Linked DNA regions of Homo sapiens. The protein of the gene in region 2 interacts with the protein of the main gene of each other region in a biochemical or structural test. Each region holds a gene or a part of one and is shown on either strand. Other genes may lie near its edges.

Region 1 (2,792 bases), on a different chromosome or scaffold from region 2:
CATCCTTTGTAGACACACCTATGTCTAGTTTTAATTTTATTCATCAGGACTTCTTTTCTCATTATGAAAGTTAATCATGTTTATTGTGGACAACTTGCTTGAAACATAAATGAACTATAAATGTAAGAAAGGCACGAAGGTCTTTTTGCTGTAGGTTTTCTCTTCCTCCTGGTGCCATCCCCATCATTTTTGTGTAGAAGTCGCAAAGCTTCCTCTGTTCCCTGTTGCCAAAACTAAAAGAGTCAGTTTGGTTTTTTGGTTCACCCGAGAAAAATCTAAGGGGCCTGTTTTATTTACAATGGGAAGAAATGTGAAAATTATCTGAACTCTTTTCACTTTCCCACACCATTCCTAATTTGAGTAATAATCGGCATCTCAATAACCCTGAGAGTTGAGGTGTAATGATTTTCTAGGTTTTGGACTGGGTTGTCCTGCTATGTGGGGTGACAACAGTAAAACCACAACAAGTAAAAAGAAATCCTTTTGAATTAAAGATCAAAAAAACTAATGCAACGAGCAACAGTTTATTTATAAAAAAAGAAAAAAACAAACAACTTTTTAACGACATTTTATAGATTAAGTAAAAATACCAGTATTAATATATATGTATATACATAGTGCATATATATATATACATATGATATAACATTAACATTACATGCTTCTCAGGACAGAAGAATTAGGACATGTTCCCTCCTATCAATTTAAAACTCGATCACAATTTAAAATCATGGAAGAAAACTTGCTTCCTTTATTTTCTGCTTTTAGACTTCAAGTACAGGAAGTTATGAAACCAGGATCTAAATGTGGAAACCATCTGCTATGCACCAATTATAAGGGACTGCCACAAATGATGAGTCAGGGGTCTTCTGAATTCTTACATAGGTCTCTGTAACCCTACAACTGTGTCAACCTTCTACCTGAGATGAGAGGGAATGATGAAGCATGACAGTGTGTAGGTTTCATGTGGACGTTCACATTGACATTGGAACAAAAGCAAACGGAAAAATGTCTTCCTAGAGCAACAACACTGATCATAAAATCACCCTGGAGGAGGATTCCCTTCTCCCCTTTCCTTGCCAAACAAAACAGAAAAACTGTCAGAAAACAATACAAAACAAAACTCAGGGTGAAGCACCTCTGGCGATGATCAGCATACAGCAAGGGACAGAGAGGTAGCGTTTCCTTGGTGACAGCTCCTGGCTGACTCCGATGATTTCAAACACACCCTCTTCTGCAAAAGGCACTCACATATTGTCTGTTTATAAATCATACAGTGGGATTCCATACATGGGAGTTTCTCCTACAAATATAAAAGAGATAAGCTGAGGAAATGGTATAACAAAGAAAAGCGTATAAGAAATACACATTTTGGATAAATATGCACTTTTCTTTTTTAAAGGACAATCAATATAGTAGTTAAAAAAAATGTCATTGAAAAGTTAGGAATTCCAGCAAAATTATCAGTAAGAAGCAAGGTACTGGAGGATGAGAGATGGAGTCCAAAACACTGAGAGGAGGTACACTAGCTTTTCAAGCGGCCAAAGTAAAAGATCTGTTCTGCTCTTAAACTGCAATGACCATCCACAGACAACGGAATGAGACGGGGAGGGAGGTAGCGGCAGAGAAACAGGTCAAGCCGGAGGGAGGAGTGGCATCCCCCTGGCTGTGGGTGCAGGAAGAAACACCCTCAGCATCTCCAAAGGGAAGGATGGGCTACATCACCCCCTTGCTTCTGCAGTCCAAACAGACCCTGCCCAAGCCAGAGGCTGCCCTCACCGGGATACAACAGAGCTAATGGAATTGTAAGAGGTGCCGCTGTTGCAGCTCGAGGCATAGGCCTCCTGGCCATTGCCATCCAGGTTGATTTTGAACACAGAGGATGCCTTCAGCAAAAAGTCTGCGGCATCCCGGCGACCCAGCTCCCTCAGTTTGGACATGAGGGTGCCCACTGTGCTCTCAGGGTAGGTGGTCCATTCCCGCAGCAGGGCGTGGAGGGGGCTGGGGAGGAAATCCTTGGGAGCCCCGTTACTGGTGTTGTACTTTGCCACGAGGTCAGGGAGGCCTAAGTTCATGGCGAGAAGGCACCAGTCCTTCCCCAGGGGGTCGGGCGGGTCCAGCAGGCGACTCAGTTTCCTCCGAGTGAGGAGGTTCAGGTCTGATGCATGGATGTCCATGCCGAGGCTGGCCTGTGAGTAGACGTCGTGACACCCGAAGCACATGATGCTGCTGAAGCTTTCCTTGTACCCCCCCATGGTGTTGGTCAGTGAGGTTTCCTTCAGAGTCTGTGCCCGGAAGAAGTCCCGTGGCTGGTAGATCATGACGGGCTCATGGTGCTCCCGCAGCTGCTGGGGGCTCAGGTAATGCTTCACGGTCAGGAGCCCTGGCAGCGTGGTGGCCATGACGTTCTCAATGGTGCTGCACACCGAGTCCAGCAGCAGGCAGCACTTGATCTTCTCCGTCTCCAGGCCGCGGACCTGGACCTCAATGCCCTGGCCGTGGTTGACCAGCAGCACCAGCAGCTCGGCCCCACGGTTGGCCAGCTTGCAGCCATTCACCCACAGGCGGATGTCCGCGTCGCCCTCTGTGCTTTGCTGGTGGATCCACCGGCACAGGTTCACCTGGACCTTGTGAAAGATGCCACATGGGAAGGGGGTGAGGTGTTCCACGGGCACGATGCGCACGCCACCATACACCATCACCTCGTCCTCCTCATCAGCCCAGGAGCGGTGCAGGTTGTCTGTCTTGATCAGGGCTGGGACGTCCACCATGGTCCCGCTGCTCAGGTCCCG
Region 2 (3,658 bases):
AGAAACCCAGGCTAGGCACGGTGGCTCATGCCTGTAATCCTAGCACTTTGGGAGGCCGAGGTGGGCGGATCACCTGAGGTCAGGAGTTCAAGACCAGCCTGGCCAACATGGTGAAACCTTGTCTCTACTAAAGATACAAAAATTAGTCAGATACGGTAGCGCGTGCCTGTAGTCCCAGCTACTCGGGAGGCTGAGGCAGGAGAATCGCTTGAACTCGGGAGGTGGAGGTTGCAATGAGCCGAGATCGTGCCACTGCACTATAGCCTAGGTGACAGAGTGAGACTCTGTCTCAGAGAAAAAAAAAAAAAAAAAAAGACAACCAACCCAATTAAAAATGGGCAAAAACTTAAATAGACACTTCCCCAAAGAAGATATACAAATGGCTTACAAGCACATAAAAAGGTGTGATACATCACTCGTCATCAAGCAAACACAAAGTACCATGAGATACCACTTCATACCCATAAAGGTGGCTGGAATTTTCTTAAGGGGAAAATAAAAAGTGTCCCCAAAGATGTGGAGAAATTAGAATCCTCATACGTTGCTAGTGGAAATGTAAAATACTACAGCCACTGTGAAAAACAATTTGGTGATTCCTCAAAAAGCTAAACATAGAATTACTATATGACCCAGCAACCCCCCTCCTAAGTATATACCCCCCCAAAATTGAAACACATTGAAACAGGTGTTCAAACAAAACTTTTACATGAATGTTCATAGCAGTATTATTCATAATACTCAAAGGGTGGAAACAACCCAAATGTCTGTCAACTATAAATGGATTAACAAAATACGGTATGCCCATACAATAGAATATTATTCGGCCATAAAAAGTAACGAGATACTGACACATGGTGAGGCTTAAAAACATTAGGGGAGCACCGTGGCTCCCGCCTGTAATCCCAGCACTTTGGGAGGCCAAGGTGGGCGGATCACGAGGTCAAGAGATCGAGACCATCCTGGCCAACATGGTGAAACCCCGTCTCTACTAAAAATACAAAAATTAGCTGGGTATTGTGGCGCACGCCTGTAGTTCCAGCTACTTGGGAGGATGAGGCAGGAGAATCGCTTGAACCTGGGAGACGGAGGTTGCAGTGAGCCGAGATGGCGCCACTGCACTCCAGCCTGGTGACAGAGCAAGATTCCGTCTCAAAACAAAACAAAACAAAGAAACAACAACAAAAAAACCATTAAGGGAAGTGAAAAAAGCCAGACCAAAAAAAAAAAAAAAAAACCACATATTATATGATTCTATTTACACAAATTATACAAAATTGGCAATATAGAGACAGAAACTAGATTAGTGGCTGTTTAAGGCTGGGAGGATAGGCGGTGGTGGCTAACGGATATGGACTTCTCTTTGTGTTGATGAAAACATTTTAAAGTTGACTGGGGTGATATTTGCACATATCTGTGAATATACTGAAATCCATTGACTTGTACATTTTAATGGGTGAATTGGATGATATGCAAATTATATCTCAATAAAGTCTTTTAAAAAAGAATCTACTTCGATGACACTTGAAAGTGTCATGCAGGCAGCCTGGGGGTGGTTGCCAGGCATCAAAATATTACTCTTGACTGAAGACTTTATTATTATTATTTTATTATTTTTGGAGGCAGAGTCTTACTCTGTCGCCCAGGCTGGAGCACAGTGGCACAATCCTGGCTCACCGTAACCTCCGCCTCAGCCTCCTGAGTAGCTGGGATTACAGGCGTGCACCACCATGACTGGCTAATTTTTGTAATTTTAGTAGAGATGGGGTTTTACCCTGTTGCCCAGGCTGGTCTCGAACTCCCGAGCTCAGGCAATCCCCCAACCTTGGCCTCCCAGAGTACTAGAATTACAGGTGTGAGCCACTGTGCCTGGCCTTATTTCTAAATACACACATAAACTCTTAGAGTCACTGATAAATCGTTCTACTTAAGAAGAGAGAGAAGTCTGGGCACGGTGGCTTACACCTGTAATTCCAGCACTTTGGGAGGCTGCGGCAGGATCCTGAGGTCGGGAGTTCGGGAGCAGCCTGACCAACATGGAGAAACCCTGTCTCTACTAAAAATACAAAATTAGCAGGGTGTGGTGGCACATGCCTGTAATCCCAGCTACTCGGGAGGCTGAGGCAAGAGAATCGCTTGAACCCAGGAGGTGGAGGTTGCGGTCAGCCAAATCGTGCCATTGCATTACAGCCTGGACAACAAGAGCAAAACTCAGTCTCAAAAACAAACAAACAAACAAACAAACAAACAAACAAAAAAACGAGAGAGAGATCAGGTGGGAAGGGAAGGAGGGAGGAAGGAAATGAGGAGGGCAGGCAGGATACGGCCAAAGAATGGGCTTAGACTTGTGCTCCAGCAGAAGCTGCCAGAAAGGCAGGAGTTCTCCAGGTGGATTTGAACCCTACAATGGCCAAGGGGCAGCCTGGAATGATCCTAGTGGTGATACCCTAACACAGCTACAATTGCAAATCTCAACAGGTTGTACTCCCATCCCTAGACGTTTTAAGGAAAGGAGCTACTTAAATCTCATAACTAATCTGTGATTATAAACTGACTCTTTCAAATCACAGATTATTAACTGTGTTCTTTCAAATATCTCTTCCAAACCCCCTCATGGTAGAGAAAATCAATATCCAGTCCCAAGATCTTGAGGTGTAATTGAAGCAGCCATGTTTGGGCATGAAACGTATTTGAAATCTCCTGCTTTGCCTTTAAATTCATGCATTCTTGCTAATGTTCTATTCTTGATGTAGTAGCAAGGGCATGTTCACTTTGTAAAAGTTCATCCATAACAGGCATTTGTACACCAATGTTCACAGCAGCATTATTCCCAGTCACCAAAAGGTGGAAACAACTCACATGTCCACCAGTGGAGGAGGAGATAAACAAATGTGGTCTATCCATACAGTGGGATATTATTCAGGCTCAACAAGGAAGGAAATTCTGACACAGGTTACAACGTGAAAAAACCTGGAAGCCATGCTAAGTAAAATGAGCCAGACACGAAAAGACAAATATAATATATTCCACTTATATGAAGTACCTAGTTCAGTCATAGTCACAGAGACAGAAAGTAGAATGGGGGCTGCCAGGGATTGGTCGGAGGGGGAGAGTGGAGTTAGTGTTCAATGGGTACAGAGTTTCTGTTTTGGAAGATGCAAAAGTACCAGAGATGGCTGATGGTGATGGTAGCACAGCAGTGTCAACACACTTAACGCCACTGCACTGTACACTTGAAAATAGTTAAGATGGTGAGTTTTATGTTACGTATATTTTACCACAATAAACACAAAAGCAACCCAAAAAGCCTATGTGGGTATATACTTAGGATCATGTGATTTTACCTAGATATGCTATTCTTGGGGTGGGTGAAATCATCTTTAGAAATATGCTTTTCCGGCCAGGCACAGTGGCTCACGCCTGTAATCCCAGCACTTTGGGAGGCCCAGGCGGGTGGATCACGAGGTCAGGAGATCGAGACCATCCTGGCTAACACGGTGAAACCCTGTATCTACTAAAAATAGAAAACATTAGCTGGGTATGGTGGCGGGCGCCTGTGGTCCCAGCTACTCAGGAGGCTGAGGCAGGAGAATGGCGTGAACTTGGGAGGCGGAGCTTGCAGTGAGCCGAGATCGCGCCACTGCACTCCCAGCCTGGGCAA
Region 3 (3,658 bases), on a different chromosome or scaffold from region 2:
GATGTGAGTATAGAGGATCTGATGTCTTTGTGAATTGGATATTGTTGCAACTCCTGGGTTAGAGAAAAAAAATTAATAGTTGATGTAGGTTCAAACAAATACACACCCACATCCATCTACCACAAGAATAGAAGTTTGCATGAAGGTATAATTACTGATTAGAGCTTTTTCCCAAATCCCCAGCGAAAAGTATTATCATCCCCTGAACCTCCATAGCACTACTTTCAGTATTTCTGTTGAAATCTTTAATACTGTGTTTTGCAGATGATAAATATGTATAAGACTTTCTCATCTCCCTGACCCCCTAAGTACTCTTTGAAGGCTGGGCTAATGTTCATTTCATATCTGCACCCCTATAATACCTTGAACAAAGTAAGTCCTTATAAAATTTTCTGGAATAAATGACTTCTCTTTGAGAAACTTTTCCCAACTTGCTATTTAAAGAGTTCTAAATAACAGATAAGGTTTGAATCAGACATCTAATTTGTCTTAAGCTAAAATATTGCCACAAAGATCTTGGAAGTCTGATGATCACAGTAACATTTTAAATGCAAAATATCTAATAAACCAGCAAGTTTCTGGGAAAGCTTTGGTCAAAATGGTTACCACTTTTCATGAGAGACCTATTTTTGTTAGCAAAGAATTTGAATTTGGATGATGGCTATGTTAAAGGTAGTTAAATGGGTTCAGCTAGATAAATAAAACAGGTTCAAATTATTTGGATTTGATTTTAAACTTATTTACAACACCAGTAGTTAATGGCTGTTTTACTTCAACAAACTCTCTAGCTGTTATTAGTTTACAATATCAAAAAAGGAGCCTTCAAACCCAAAGGCAACAATTAAGACCCCAAGACAATCTTAGAAGGAGCAGTAAAGACACCAGAGGCCAGCTTCTTTACAGCACTAATCAAATGCGTTAGGTCAGAGACACTATCCCTAACTCCAGAGTAGATAAATCATTTTAATTTATGGGATAAATTCTTTTTAATTTTATCAATTTAGCCTGTGAATGTGCCCTATTTAAATTTCAAACATAGAAGGAAACCTAAACCTTTTGTTCAACTCTATGTCAGTGGCAGTGAGCTGAGATTGAACCTTATCAAAGTGATATGTTTTTCTATTTATGTAGTCTTCTCTGAAGATGCGGAATAAGTTGGTTATGAAAGTTTTCTTGACTTCCAGAAGTTACCAAAGCATGCTGATATACTGGATGTGTTCTGAGTAACATAGTATTACCCTTCTCTCTAGGAATCCAGAAAACAATACCTGGCTTAATCTTTAACATAAAGATGTAAAACATACTTCTAGAAGTGCAAGTGATGCGTCCGCTGCCTTCTCCCAGGCAAGTACAATCTACCATCATCCAGCCTTGGTAGGGCTTCTCCCACGTTTCTCCGACCACATAGGAAGTCCCAGCAGCATGATCAAAACACTTCTCAGCTGTAGGGAAATTTGGAAGAAAAACAGGAAAAAAAGGTTATTTTGAATTGTGCAAGCTCCCTGTAATTTAAAGTGTAGTGTGTAAGCAAAAATTCAGCCACATTTTTTTTAAGTGGCACTCTGTTCAGAAAGAATGACACACCCAGCATCTAAGCACACAGTAAGTAGCCAAGGCAAAAGAAAGCTCAAGCTGAGTTGGCAGGCAGAAATTCCATTCTCCTAATAAGTACATGGACTACATATTTTCAGCGAGCCCCAAACTTCCCAGCAGCATTTCCAGTAGCAAGGATCTATGTATGTATCTAGTCTGTGGGAGACTACATATGCAAAATTCCAATCTTAATTATAAATGACCAATTATGAATTTTGAGTGGCCTAAATACAATGACAAAGAAAGCTATTTTTAAATATTGGAAAGCAAAACAATACAAAACAAGACAAAAACCTCTAAATTAGAAGACAAGTAAACAGAGTAAAATTTATAGCCAGAAACTTTCAGGCTTGTACTTACAAAATTCAACTGAGGATTGAGATCCAAAGAAGCTCAACAACTTTTAATTTGAAAAGAAATGAGCAGAGTGTGACAAGCACACACTATTTCATGTTTCGGTCCAGGACATTCCATATAGAAATGTGTCCAAAGTGTCATTTTTTTTTCTTTTAAATAAATTATATCTTGACGAAGGAGGAATCTGAGATCAGCTATTAGGTAAAAGAAATGACTCCATTCTAAATCTTTCAATTCTACCTTATGCTTTTGAAGCAAAGTTAAGACTTCTATGTGTAGTCAGTACTTTTTGATCTAACTCCTGTAAGAAGACTATGGATTATATAATAATTCATTATTTCAAACAAAATTCCCATTTCTTTATTGGTTTTCACTGGAATTCAGGTCTATGACCTATGTAGATGTGATTCTGGTCCAACCCCACATTAGAACTAAGCATCCCAGCTCTTGCTCAGCCCTAAGACTCACACACCTATGGGCTTGCAGGTCCATTCTCCTTTTCCATTACCAAGACACACACACTCTAACATGTAACCACCAGTCTCATGTGGTCTCCTCCAGGTGTCACCAATCTTGTAGGACTGACCCCCTTCATGGCAGCGGTCTGTTGAAGATACAACGAAAATGTTAGGAGAGGGCAGAACAGATTTTTTTTTTTGGTCTCATATTCCACCCATGGTAGGTACTTAGGTTGGCTAAAGTAGAGACACAGACAACAGCTTTCCCATCAGAGACAGGGGAAACGTTAACAGGTCTGGTCACTTGGAGTCAATTCAGTTAAGTGTCTTGCTTAGAACACAATGGAAAACCACAGAGAAATCTGGATGGCAAGGAAGAGGTCATGAATCCTGCTTTCCCAGAGAGATCACAGGAAATTGGGTCCTAAGCAGAAAAGAAAGGCTGGGAGGCTTGGTCTTCACTCATACACAGCAGGCTAAGACTGAGACTAATTCAGTGAAAAGGCCACATCAGGCACAGCACTCCAGCTTTTGGGAGCATGGAGAGCCTGTATTTTACCCTAGGATAGAAATGTCATTTTGGTGGAAAGCAAACAGACATATGCATATAAAGTGTGGAAATCCTGGTAGTTTTCTAAGTTGTTAAGCCCAATGGCACATTCAAATGCTGAACTAGATTGTAAACACTATGGACCCTTGCCTCTTGCGATTTGCCTGTGAACTTGGATAAACCCTAACATGAAATATGGGGAAAGTTGATTGGGCCTATTCACACGGGACTTGTTCTTTTGAATAGAAGTCTTTAAGACGACTTATATTTAAAGAATGGATTAAAAAACTTAAATACTATCTTAATAGAATCTATTGGTAACCCAGTGAATCATACTGGAAAGAGTGCCTTAGCTAAACTAGAGTTGAGAATCAGCCCGGTTCCCAAAGTTCCTTAGCAAACTCTATTGGGTTAATAATTTTGTATTATCCCTAGGAATAGTGACATCTGCTTCCTGGGTATAACCTACTGGTCACCAAGAAACCAGACTGTTTCTGTGAGGTGCAAGAGGTCTCTGCATTGCAAACATGAAGACCAGACAACACATGGCTGGTTCACTCTTCATGAACACCTTCCCAGTCACTGCAGAAAAGTCTCATGATTTGTCTAGCTTGAAGATATCCAGGTGATTTAAAATGGGCAACTCCCCTAAGCATGTCTTACTGAAATGGAACCCAAGAGGTCTCTTGGTTCTACTATG

What was found.
Region 1: the proteins of LOXL2 (region 2) and DAPK1 form a complex in vitro, tested with the Homo sapiens proteins (one large-scale study listed by BioGRID and IntAct).
Region 3: the proteins of LOXL2 (region 2) and FN1 interact in a biophysical measurement, tested with the Homo sapiens proteins (one study listed by IntAct).

What each region holds. Positions count from the first base shown.
Region 1 is NC_000009.12:87,706,348-87,709,139, reverse strand, and holds the end of DAPK1 (death-associated protein kinase 1), read right to left. Parts: coding exon 1,776-2,792; 3' UTR 506-1,775; downstream 1-505. UniProt on the Homo sapiens protein: Calcium/calmodulin-dependent serine/threonine kinase involved in multiple cellular signaling pathways that trigger cell survival, apoptosis, and autophagy.
Region 2 is NC_000008.11:23,394,102-23,397,759, forward strand, and holds part of LOXL2 (lysyl oxidase homolog 2 precursor), read right to left. Parts: intron 1-3,658. UniProt on the Homo sapiens protein: Mediates the post-translational oxidative deamination of lysine residues on target proteins leading to the formation of deaminated lysine (allysine).
Region 3 is NC_000002.12:215,429,411-215,433,068, forward strand, and holds part of FN1 (fibronectin isoform 1 precursor), read right to left. Parts: intron 2,555-3,658; coding exon 2,423-2,554; intron 1,443-2,422; coding exon 1,305-1,442; intron 1-1,304. UniProt on the Homo sapiens protein: Fibronectins bind cell surfaces and various compounds including collagen, fibrin, heparin, DNA, and actin. Fibronectins are involved in cell adhesion, cell motility, opsonization, wound healing, and maintenance of cell shape.